Regions from separate parts of the Homo sapiens genome. Here all the other regions are reported to be linked to region 2. The links are microRNA targets in miRTarBase. Many come from high-throughput screens and were not tested one by one. Region 2 holds a microRNA gene; each other region holds the end of a gene's coding sequence. Distances are from middle to middle.

Evidence for each region. Region 2 holds the annotated microRNA hsa-miR-619-3p (GACCUGGACAUGUUUGUGCCCAGU, at 1,704-1,727, opposite strand). A microRNA usually pairs through its seed, bases 2 to 8, with sites in the 3' UTR of a target mRNA and lowers its output. Matches are read on the target gene's strand: a 7mer-m8 pairs with bases 2 to 8, a 7mer-A1 pairs with bases 2 to 7 and ends in A, and an 8mer does both.
Region 1: miRTarBase lists SLC10A6 as a target of hsa-miR-619-3p. The part of its 3' UTR that is shown has no 7-base or 8-base seed match.
Region 3: the mRNA of KCTD10 is a reported target of hsa-miR-619-3p. The part of its 3' UTR that is shown has no 7-base or 8-base seed match.
Region 4: the mRNA of RNF216 is a reported target of hsa-miR-619-3p. Seed matches in the 3' UTR shown: 7mer-A1 at 887-893.

What each region holds. Positions count from the first base shown.
Region 1 is chr4:86,820,912-86,824,068 of GRCh38, forward strand. SLC10A6 (solute carrier family 10 member 6) reads right to left here. Exons shown (of 6, transcript NM_197965.3): 6 at 2,557-2,991. The coding sequence ends at 2,777. Among named protein-coding and RNA genes, the nearest start is that of SLC10A6, 27 kb to the right of the region's middle.
Region 2 is chr12:108,835,220-108,838,376 of GRCh38, forward strand. MIR619 (microRNA 619) reads right to left here and starts at 1,787; the gene lies at 1,689-1,787. The region is part of intron 2 of SSH1 (slingshot protein phosphatase 1); the gene reads right to left. RefSeq lists enhancers at 2,643-3,157, 3,147-3,157.
Region 3 is chr12:109,449,178-109,452,308 of GRCh38, forward strand. KCTD10 (potassium channel tetramerization domain containing 10) reads right to left here. Exons shown (of 7, transcript NM_031954.5): 7 at 1-2,636. The coding sequence ends at 2,418. Among named protein-coding and RNA genes, the nearest start is that of KCTD10, 27 kb to the right of the region's middle.
Region 4 is chr7:5,620,417-5,623,558 of GRCh38, forward strand. It overlaps RNF216 (ring finger protein 216), which reads right to left. Exons shown (of 17, transcript NM_207111.4): 17 at 1-2,763. The coding sequence ends at 2,444. Among named protein-coding and RNA genes, the nearest start is that of FSCN1, 29 kb to the left of the region's middle.

The DNA of each region.
Region 1 (3,157 bases), not on the chromosome of region 2:
TGGGAATACTTACAAAATAACATTATAAACATTAAATCTCAAAACACTTTCTCACACATTTCAAAACTTACAAATAAGAATAGACACAAAATGGAACCAGAGTCCCAACAAAAACACATTATATAGGAAGTTATGTGATAAGGGTAGCATTTCAAATCAGTAGATAAAAGAATAATGATTCAATATATGATGTTTGGATAATTAACTATAAAAAAATTAGATTATTATGCCATACAGGAAAAATTCAAAATGGAATAAGTATGTATGTATTTGCTCCATCACAGTATTAGAAAAACATATGGGAAAATATTTTTAATAATTTCTAGTAGAGGACAGATTTACCTACTGCCAGGCATCATGTATTGCATGGGAAGACAAGAAGTACACACAGCAGCTAGTAAATATGTTGTGTAAGCCCCCAGAAAGAACTCCCTGAAAAGGGGCCAAATACATTCTCAAAAAAAGATTCTATCACAATTCACAATCCACACAAATATATAAATATGCTAACATTTGGCAGAGATCAGAGCAAAAAAAAAACATTCTTAATAAGATTAATAAGCTGAATATATTAAAAAAATAAAACTCTGTATTGCAAAAGACATAGAGTAACAAAAGATAAACGAGTAGGTAAAATGTTGACAAAACATAGGACACATTGTCACTTATCATTATGGTTCAAAATCTATACATCAAAAAGGAAAAGATACAATAGAAAAGCAGGCAAAGGACATAAGTTGCCAAGTGATTGTGAAAAATGCTTTAGTTCATTCAGTTTTTAAATGAAATTTTGTTTTTTGTTTTTTGTTTTTTTTTGAGATGGAGTTTCGCTCTGTTGCCCAGGCTGGAGTGCAGTGGCATGATCTCGGCTCACTGCAACCTCCGCCTCCTGGGTTCACGCCATTCTCCTGCCTCAGCCTCCAGAGTAGCTGGGACTACAGGCGCCCGCCACCACACCAGGCTAATTTCTTGTATTTTTAGTAGAGACAGGATTTCACCGTGTTAGCCAGGATGGTCTCGATCTCCTGACCTCGTGATCCACCCGCCTCGGCCTCCCAAAGTGCTGGGATTACAGGCGTGAGCCACCGCGCCCAGCCTAAATGAAATTTTAAATGAGATGTTTTAACCAATCAAAATTGATCATTCATTTGACTGGTGAGACTGTGGGAAACCAGGCCCTCTCAGGCACTGCTGTACAACGTTGCCAGATAGCAATCTGTCATACATTTCGGTAAGCAATTGGCTTGGAAATTCAAGTCACAGGAAGTGAGCCTACAGAAATACTTGCACCTAAAGGCAAAAGTGTTTGTAACAGCACTGTAATACTGTTAAGCTGAAAGCTATCTAAGTGTCCATGAATAAGGAGTGGTTAAATAAATTACAGTCCTTCCACACAATAGAATACTTCCACATCACTACTATACTAAAGAATGAGGTAGGTCAACACAGACTGACACTCAAAGATGTTCCATAATGTGTCATCAAGTGACTTACAAAACAATATATGGAATGATCTCAAGGTTCTTAAAATGATACAGTTTACATACACAGCTTAGAAGGATACACATGGGTCTTTCTTTTTTTTTTTGAGTCAGAGTCTTACTCTGTCACCCAGGCTGGAGCGCAGTGGCGTGATCTCAGCTCACTGCAACCTCTGCCTCCTGGGTTCAAGTGATTCTTCTGCCACAGCCTCCCAAGTAGCTGGGATTACAGGTGCATGCCACCATGACTGGCTAATTTTTGTATTTTTAGTAGAGATGGGGTTTCACCATGTTGGCCAGACTGGTCTTGAACTCCTGACCTCAGGTGATCTGCCCACCTCAGCCTCCCAAAGTGCTGGGATTACAGGCATGAGCCACTGTGCCCAACCATGTGTCAATCTTTAGAAAGTGAAAATACAGGGCATTCCATTTTTAACCGTATGTGTGTTTTAAATTCTTTCCAAGCTTGTGTTACATCTATAATCAAAATGATTTTCAATTTCTTAAAAATAATAATCATTTGAGAAAACTGCCCCATTTATTATAAGAGCTATTTGTTCTCCTCTCAGTGCACCTGAGGACCTGCCCAGAGTCAAGAAGTCACATAGGTCTGCGTCACCCTGCAGTATGAGGTGACATCTCCTCTACTTAGAGTTCTAACTCTTGTTCAATTAAAATCCACAACGTGGCTGGGCGCAGTGGCTCATGCCTGTAATCCCAGCACTTTGGGAGGCTGAGGCGGGCAGATCACTTGAGACCAGGAGTTCGAAACCAGACTGGCCAACATGGTGAAACCCCATCTCTACTAAAATACAAAATATTAGCCAGGCATGGTGGCACACACCTGTGATCCCAGCTACTTGGGAGGCTGAGGCAAGGGAATCACTTGAACCCAGGAGGCGGAGGTTGTGGTGAGCCGAGATTGTGCCACTGCACTCCAGCCTGGGCAACAGAGCAAGACTCTGTCTCAAAAAAAAAAAATCCACAACATAAGGATAAGTTCCCCTAATGAAGGATTTTACCTACTGCCAGGTACTATTTGCTGCATGGGAAGACAAGAACATACAAGGCAGCTCATTGATACGTTATGTTAACCCCCAGAAGAAACTCCCTGAAATGGGAATCTCCAAAAGTGATCCCATCACAATTCACAATCCACATGAAAATATAAATATTCTAACATTGAACACTTAAATATTCACACTGGCCCTACCAACAAGATTCATGTGTCAGCTGCACACTGTCTTTACTGGCCACTGAAAAAGAAGGGGGCCAGTCCAGCCAGCTAGTCCCTGCTATTCACATGAAGTGATGTGGCCAACTGGCTCGAGAGCCCTGTGGCAATCCATTGGCCCTGGTGGCCCAGGAGTGATGGCACCTTCTTCATTCACCTCCAAGAAGGCATTGGTCTCTCTGGAAGAAGTCGATTTCCTCGTATGGCAGACTTCTGTGCAACCTGAGTTCTTTTTTCCATGTTTGTTCTTCAATCTCCTCTTGTACGTCTGATATGCTAGGTGTTAAAACATACAAGTATTAACAATCACTTTAACAAAGAGTCTAATTTGGTGACACTGTACACTTGTCAATCCTTCAGGTGTTTGTTTCAGTGGCATCATGTATGTATAAACACCCAGGGAAAAGAAGGGGGAAAGAGAGAAAGCTATAGAACAGAAGGA
Region 2 (3,157 bases):
CAGGTATGTTAACTCATTTATTCCCCAGTGTCCATCTCTCAGTGTTTTATACATACGGGAACTGAGGCTCAATTAGCCGAGCGTGGTGTCGTGCTCCTGTAATCCCAGCTATTGGGAGGCACAAGAATCACTCGAACCCAGGAGATGGAGGTTGCAGTGAGCCGAGATTGTGCCACAGCACTGCAACAGAGTAAGACTCCGTCTTAAAAAAACAAAAAAACAGAAAACAAAACAAACAAACACTGAGGCTCAGGGAGGTTAAGTCACCTGCCCAAGTTCATGAGACCAAGGAGCCGGGAAGCAGGAAGGGGAAGGCAGGAGTGTAACTCTGAAACCTCTGCTCTTAGGCACTGGCTTTCAGCTGAACTGATACCTCTGGAAAACAGTCTCAAAAAAGTCCACTTCTCCTCCCAACAATTCAGACCTAAAAACCATTTGGCGGGGAAGGGCAGGGCAAGCTTCTGAGTTGGGGAGGGGGTGTGGGATCCCAAGCTGAGGTGTCTGTTGGCAAGCAGGGTGCAAAGGGCATCTGTGCAGGGAGGGGGCTGCAAGGGAGACAGAGACTGCTCACAGGCAAGGAATGAAATATTAAACATTAATGTTAATATTAATATTTATAATTAATATATTTATGATATATAGCATATATACATATTATATTAATTAATTATAACTATATTAATATAATTAATTATAACTATATTAATATAATCAATTATAACTATATTAATATAATCGATTATAACTATATTAATATAATCGATTATAACTATATTAATATAATCGATTATAACTATATTAATATAATCGATTATATTAATATTAATATAATCAATATTAACAAATATATACTATATAATATAAATAATACCTAAGTTTATATAATATGCATAATGTTAATATTTATTAATATTTCAGGGACAATGGGAGTCATGAATATGGAGAGACAAAACTAGAATGAACCCCAAGGTGCTGCATCAGAATTGAAGGTACCAGTCTGAACTCATAGTTTTCAACCTATTGAAATAAATATAGATGCACGTGTGTGTGTATGCACGTACATACAAATGTTCCCTAATTCTGCCCATTGAGAGGCCTGTGGTTAGCAACACCCCAACAGCAATAAGCAGACCTAGCTTGGCTCCTAAATTTCATTTTCCACTAAAAGGAACCAGAGCCCCTTGGATAAAGGACTGATTCCACAGGTGGGTAGGGAGCATCTGTTGCCAGAAAGCAAGAAAGCACTTAAAGAATGATGTGGACATGTCAAAGGGACACAGAAGCCAGCCTGGATGAGATCCCACTGGCCCTAACTGTCCACAAGGACAATTTGAGCAAGGATGTCAACAATTTAAGAGCAGATTATAAACCACTGAATAAAACAGAAAAATACAAAGAATTGAAACGGACATTGATGGCAGACAGGATATTAACATAATTTTAAAGTATCTCTCCAAGGAATGCTTCTGAATGATGAAGGGGAAAAGAATAACTGTACAGTGGAAAAGCCTGGTAAAACCCACCTTAGTGACCAAAGTGAATGTCACCATAGTGGGACAAAAGGAAATCAAGTGCCACCTTATGGGATTCAACGAGGACGCAGCATCCCTTGGGTGATGTTCCAGCCAAATACACGTGCCCGGTGGAATCACACAAGAACATCAGACACACTCACACTGAGGGACACTCTGCAAACTGACAGTACTGGGCACAAACATGTCCAGGTCATGGTCGACCGCAGTGGCTCATGCCTGTAATCCCAGCATTTTGGGAGGCTGAGGTGGGCGGATCACTTGAGGTCAGGGGTTCGAGACCAGCCTGGCCAACATGGCAACACCCTATTCTCTACTAAAAATACAAAAATTAGCCGAGCGTGGTGGAGCATGCCCGTAATCCCAGCTACTTGGGGCGCTAAGGCACAAGAATCGCTTGAACCCGGGAGGTGGAGGTTGCAGCGAGCTGAGATATCACCGCTGCACTCCAGCTTGGGCGACAGAGTGAGTTTCCAACTCAAAAAATAAAAAAATAAAATAAAATCCAGGCCACAAGAGTCAAAGAAAGACTGAGGAAGGTTCCAGACTGCAGGAGAGCCAAGAGACAGGATAACTAGATGCAATGGGCAGTCCTGAATTGGATCTTTTGTTATGAAGGACAACGCTGGGACATATGGTGACTCTTGAATGGGGTTAGAGGACTAGACGGTGGGAATGCATCAGAGTCAGTGTCCCGCGTGGATGGCTGTGTTGCGGTTCTGTGGGAGAATGCCCTGGTCTGTATTCCAAGGGTAATGGAGTAGCAGGTTGACAAATTACTTTCAAATGGTTCAAAAAAGAAAGTTCTTTTCACTGTACTTGCAATTCTTATGTAAGCTGGAAATTATCTCAAAATTAACGAGAATTTTTTATCGACGTAGTATTTTACATATTTATGGAAAACATGTAAGTATTTGTTACATGCATAAACTGTGTAATGACCAAGTCAGAGTATCTGGGGTATCCATGACCTTGAGTATTAATCATTTGTATGTGTTGGGAGCATTACAAGTTTTCGAGTTACCAATTTTTTTTTTTTTCCTTTGAGACAGGGTCTTACTCTGTCGCCCAGGCTGGAGTGCAGTGGGACGACCACGGCTCACGCAGCACAGCCTCCACCTCCCAGGCTCAAGCGATCCTTCCACCTCAACCACCCAAGTAGCTGGGACTACAGGTGTGTGCTGCCACCCCCAGCTAATTTTTTAATTTTTTTGTAGAGACAGGGTCTCACTATGCTGCCAGGGCTGGTACTGAACTCCTAGGCTCAAGAGATCCTCCCACCTCGGTCTCCCAAAGTGCTGGGATCATAGGCATGAGCCACCATACCCAGCCAAATTTTTTAAAGTTATTTTTTAAATCTCCACTTAATTCGATTTTGGTAAAACACGACCTGTAATTTTTCTTTATCGGTAGGTAATAAAAGCTTCAGATGATTTTACTGATCACTGGTATGGGCATATTTCATGACTTTGCCCTTTCATCTCTTGCATAGTTTTACCCTCACCAAGCAAGACCTTCCCTGCCTCAGCACTGTTTGCCCTCTTCGTGTTTTCCAGAACAGAAGTGGCCCTGTTTCGTGCCCAGAGCAGAAGAGAACGATGAAGAGCTCTGCTCTCCCAGGTCTT
Region 3 (3,131 bases), 610 kb from region 2:
AAATCAGTTCCTTGTATACTCAATAACAGAGCTTGGACCAGCCAATGCTGTCTATTCACTCATGGCTATAATGCAGCCGACAGAATTGTTCACCATGGAATGTTTTATAAACCTGTTCATATTCCAGAGAGACAAAGACTCAAAACTACAAGTGCAAAGTTGGGTAGAGAGAGCTGCCAGAAACACTAGCTCATTAGGCATAGAGGCCACAGCAAATCAAATTGTTCCACAAACTCATTCTTCACACAAACATTTAAAACACTATGCAGCCAGGTGTGGTGACTCACACCTGTAATCCCAGCACTTTGGGAGGCCAAGGTGGTCGGATCACAGGGTCAGGAGTTCAAGACCAGCCTGGCCAACATGGTGAAACCCCATCTCTACTAAAAATACAAAATTAGCTGGGCATGGGCTGATGGGTACCTGCAATCCCAGCTACTCGGGAGGCTGAGGCAGCAGAATCGCTTGAACCCAGGAGGCACAAGTTGTGGTAAGTGGAGATGGTGCCACTACACTCCAGCCTGGCCAATAGAGCAAGACTCCGCCTCAAAAAAAAATTTATACAATGGCTTTTCCATTTTCCTGGCCAACATTCACTTCGACTTTCTAAAAAAGCTCAACCCAAAAGAAAGACAGGGTTGGTGTTTAACACTTAAACAGTATAAAATATTTACGAAACATTTTGTAAGCCCTCTTTCCTTAGCACTTAATAAAATCCAAATGGCCTAATATAAAAGTTTCTCACACGACAGTTTAAAAAGCATCTGCCCAATACACGATTTTGACATTCAGTCATGATTGTTTTAAAGTTTTATTGTAGACTTTGCTGTTGGATACAAAATGAAGGCATACAACTGTCACAGGCAGGGCAGTAAGTACAAAGTCTAAGCTGTAAAAACCGTTTGAAAATATAAACTCGTTTTTGGAATACATGTGTCAAAGGCTGCCCATGTTAATACCTTTGGTATAAAACGGTAACGATTCCCTTGACAAACCCATCCATCACCTGACGCACATTCACATCTCCTGGTAACTACTCTACCTAGTCTAGTCTCAACCACCCCTGTCAGTCACGACTCACTCCTGTTCCTTTGCAGGTGCAGAGGAGCCTGGGAGGTAGGTCACTGAGAACACCCGTCCTACATAGGCGCTGCGCCCAGCCGGGCTCCAGCAGGGGCCGCCACCTGTGCCCCACAAGCACACGTCCCCACCCACAGTCACACATATCCCTTAAACAAACATGAACACAGACACAAACCAGACCCAAAGTTATCTATCTACCCGCACATCCTCAACCTGTTCACTGCTGGCCACTCTACACTGTGTAAAAATCAGAGGCAAAGACAAGGGGGTCTGTGTTTATAGCAGGGAAGCTCCCTGGGGCTGGTGGTGTGAGGGTGTCCCTGCCTGGATGCCAGGCTGGGAGGACAAAGGGTATGGGCCACACTGAATTTCTAAGCAAAATGACTTAGAAAGTTAGCCCAGCTTCATGGGGAAGGAGGCTGAAGAGGAGCGGGATCCCAGGGAGGGGTAGTTTATGAGCTATGCCTGTCACAGGGTCAGATGGCCTTCCTGGAGTGGAGTCGGGTCAATCAGGAGAACAACTGGACGGGGCTGGAGTTGGGGAAAGAACCAGAAACAGAGCTGGACACTTACTGCCATGGAAAGTTCTGCTCCTACGCAGACATATGGGGTCCCAGTGAGCACCAGGCCAAAGACCAGCCCAAGGTGGCAAAAGGCTTGATCCCTAAACAAAGCCTTGCACCCAAAGTTGCACTGGTCTCAACGATTTAGACGCTCATTCAGCCATATTTCCACTGCCACAAGCTGCAATTATCAACAAGCTCTAGGCCCAAAGCCACATGGCAGAAAGCACGTCTAGCAAAGCAGTGGGGATTGTGCCCGGGCCAAACACACAGGAACCAGGAGTGGACCTGCTGGGGCTGGAGGATTATGAAATAGGAAGCAGGGAGCTCAGATACCTCTGGTGGCCTCCAACTGCAGGACAACTCTCAGAATTGTCAAACTGAACCCTTAAGGGAGTGTCACCCAAAAAGCCCACATAGGAAGTCGACACCCACAAAAATAAATATTGCAAACAAAAGTTCTCACATACACTTCACACTCATTCATACTTTTCCTCTGAGAACCGAGAAAGCCTGGCTCCAAAGAGTCTCAGATTCTCATGAAAAGTAGAGATCTTAGACACAGCTTGTTCAACGACAGGGGTCATACGCCTGGGTCAAGACAATCAATTTGCCTTGTCAAGCAATACCAAAATAATCATCTGGCTTGTTACAAAAGTATCTCCAGGCTCCAAGGGAAGCAGAAGGGGCCCGGCAGCCTGCACAGGATCTGGGTGTAGCACGGCAGGGAGTGGGGGCGGTGAGAGGAGGGCGGCTCGGTCTCTTGCCTGCTCACTGGTGGAGGTGGGCCCGGTCATCAGGGCGCTTGATGTGGATCCTCCGCACGCGCTCGATCCGCTCCCGCTCCTCGTCCTCGTCCAGGTGGTGGGAGCGCCCCGCCGCCCCGCCTGTGGCCTCCAGGAGCGCATTGTCAGGTCCCCGGCCATCCTGGGCCTCATACAGCAAAATGTTCAGGGTCTCCTCATAAATCCGGGCTTCGGGAAACTCCACCTGTGTTCCCACAGTATACAGGGCAGGTAAGTTATGGCCCACCCCCTCTGCCAACACCTGGACTTTAAGCAGGGCCGCCAGGCTAAATCAGGCCCCTGGGATTCTGCTGAAGGCCACCAGTATTATTTTTAAATAAACTGATATTTTCAATGGCAACACTTACATGTGGTGCTAAATGCACAGAAAATCAAGGGGATGCAGAGAAACAGGTCTCCCTGCCCCTAGTTTCCCTTCTTAAAGGTACAGTTTCTCATCATTTTACCCTCTCAAAGATTCTGTGCATGTAAATATGTGTAATACACATATTTATTCACACACTTCAAAAAACACACAAGGTGGCCCACCACACAGAGTTGTACATGTCTTCCTCTTGTGCCTAACTTAACCTAGAGATCATTCTGTATCAAGGAATTATAAATACGACAATGCAATTAACCATACTTGGATGGCCATTTAGGTCAGTGCTAATATGCTTCTCCTAACAGAGCTGCAACC
Region 4 (3,142 bases), not on the chromosome of region 2:
TGGCTGGTCTGAAGACCCCCAGTGCTTCTCTCCCCAATGCTGTCACTGGTCCAGGCAGGAGCCCGAGGTTCAGGCCCTGCCTCTGGACAGAGGGGCCTGGAGAACCAGGGTGGGTGCTCACGGCAGCCCTGTGGTCCCCCGTGCCTGGCTCGGGGAGGATCCTCAGGAATCAGGGACCCTCCAAGGAAAGAGGCCGCCGCTCCTTCCCCACCAGCCCAGTGTGGCCAGAACAGCTGGAACTCCTCTCAAATGACCCACCCCTGGGGTTTGGCCTTAGGAGAAACATCACTCTGGGCTCCCCCTCCCCTGCCAGGGTTGAGGCCAGCACCTGTCTAGGGCTGTTTCTGCAGCTGCTGCCTGCTCCCTTTGTCCTGCCTGGGGCTCTTGCTGGAGCCACGTGCCTAGGGTACAGGGCAGAGGGAGCTGAGGCTCCCAGGGCCTGAGGTCACCTCTTCAGCTGTGATGTCTACAGCCGCCCTCTGCTCCCAGAGATCCTCCCTGGGGAAGCACAGGGAGCATATTTAAGGTACCGAAGACAATCCTGTTGCTGCCGCATGGAGCCTGCCTTTCCAAGGCACTGTCGTTCAGGCTAGTAGCAAAGTTCAGGCAGTCCAACAGGTATGGGCGCCAGCAAGGACATAGCAGCAGGCTGCCCCCAAGCCCGGCCTCCCTGCGCACCCTTACCCCAGGTCCAGGTGACCACCTGTCTTCAAAGCCTCCATCCTGGGCAAAGGCAGAAAGAATGGGTATCTTAGTTTTTTTTTTTTTTTTTTTAAAGATAGAGTTTTGCTTTTGTTGCTCAGGCTGGAGTGCAGTGGCACAATCTTGGCTCACTGCAACCTCTGCCTCCCAGGTTCAAGTGATTCTCCTGCCTCAGCCTCCTGAGTACCTGGGATTATAGGCATGCGCCACCTTGTCCGGCTAATTTTGTATTTTTAGTAGAGACGGGGACTCAAACTCCCGACCTCAACTCATCCGCCCGCCTCGGCCTCCCAAAGTGCTGGGATTACAGGCGGGAGCCACCGCGCCGGGCCATCTTAGATCTTAGAGCCCACTTTAGTCCTTGAAATACATCTGAGAAGCCAATGGCAGCGAATGACGGTGCCCGCCTGCCCCAGGCACCTTGGGTGGGCCAGGCCCTGCTTCAGGAGGTGGCGGGCCACTCCGGAGACTGATGCAGCCCCACCCCAATGGTTGTCGGACTCAGCTGTGTCTGAGGTCTGTGAACTCCCAGCCTCTCAGAACCCCATGGCAACACGACAAGGACAAGGCAGGGCATGAGGAGGAGGAGAAAGTGATGCCTGTGGCCAGGAAGGCTTCAGACCTCTCATCTGTCAATGGGCCAGAGTGATGCCTCAGGCACCGCTAGAAACCCAGGGCCGGACAGGAGGCGAGGAGGGTGAGTGGGGACATGGCAGGGCTGAGCTGATGCTCAGCTGACTCCATGAGAAGGGAAGTGACCTTCACATGGGGGATACTGGACAGCACCCTCTACCTGCCTTCAGCAACCACTGAGAACACCCGGGGCACACACGGGGCAGGGGTGGCACCCAGGGTCACCTGTCTCCCTAAGGAGGCCCACTCCTCCCCCAGAAAGCCAGGGGGGAAAAGCTGCTCATCACCCAGGGTGGCAGAAACGTCTCCCCCAGCAGTTGGGCTGCCCAGCAGGGCCACCAGGCCTCTGTCCCAGCTGCCTTAAGAGGCTCTTTCAATGGGCCAGCTTCAGAACCATCCAGTGTACCGCAGCGGCCTGGCCTGGGAAAGGATTTCTCAGCCTGACTTTCCAGAGACCGAGGATGAGAAAGTTAGGCGGCAACAGAACAAAACCCCCGCCGCGAGATGGGTCTGCTGCTGCCTCATCTGAGTAGGTGTAAGAGGGGAGGAGAGGTGCCCTCAACACTCACTGCAGTGGCGCACGGGTTTTGGATGGGGGGACAGCATCTTGGCCCTCACAGCTGTGGCAGTGCCTCTGCGGGCCATGGTCCCAGCCCCCCACCCTGAGCAATGCTTCCCAGGCCCGCAGGTGCAGCCCCCTCTGCCCTTGGCCCAACCGTGGGCCCCTCCAGGGAGATGCTCTCGGCTGCCTTGCTACCCAGGGGTCGGCTCCGAGGAGAGGCCCAGGTGTGAGCAGCAGGGACCTGGTCTATGGCCTATGCCATGGACAAGGCAGAAGGACTGCCGTTGGTGGCCTGGGGGATGCGAGGGGAGGGGCAGTTCACATCGCAGCTCTCTCCGAACTCCACCATTTGGGACGTCTTTATTATGGATCCGTCCACTCTTCCAGGAGCAGTAGCCCTTCTAGGAAAGGGGTGGGAAGAAAACCAGCCTACCCTTCAAGCTGACTTAGGATGCAATGGTACAGACACCAGCCTTGGGGGAGGGTTCTCCATCCACACTCCTACCCCAAACGGGCTTTGTGCTGCTCAATGGGGATTCGGGGCCATCAGAAGCGATGCCGCGGCTGGGGGCCAAAGTGCATGGGCAGGTTGTGCTCCAGGGGCATGTGGATGGGACCGAAGTCATAGTTGACCCGCACGTTGGGCAGAGGGGGCACGTACGGGGCTGGGATAGGCCCCATGTTGAGTGGGAAGTTGTTGAACACAGGCCGCACGGGAGGCAGGGGGAAGGGTGGGTGCGCGAAGGCATAGGGTGGCATCTGTGGCTGTGGCAGGTTCTGCGGAACGGGCCTCGGGAGGGCCTCCACCCTCTGCACCTTCTCCACAGGCTTCTCCAGCGGGGGTCCAATGCGTTTGAAGGTGTTCTCTGAAAGGGATGTGGGGATTAGTGGAGAAAAACATTAAACCAACCTCAATGGAATCTAGCCTGGGACCAGGGCAGCGACCTCTGGACACGGGAGTGGCTCCACATGCTGATCAAAGCACAAAACGTGGACACCTCCCAAATGCCACTGCAAGAAACCAAGAACAAATCTGTACTTCCACCAGTGTCTTGCTCCACAGTGGCACCTTGGAAGGTGGCACGTCCACCCACCCAGCCAGACATCCTTCAGAGCCAGGGCCTTGATGGGCCACCTCAGTGACTCAGTTACTTTTTTTTTTTTTTTTAATAGATGGGGTTTTGCCATGTTGCCCGGGCTGGTCTCAAACTCCTGGGCTCAACTGATCCACCTGCCTCACCCTCC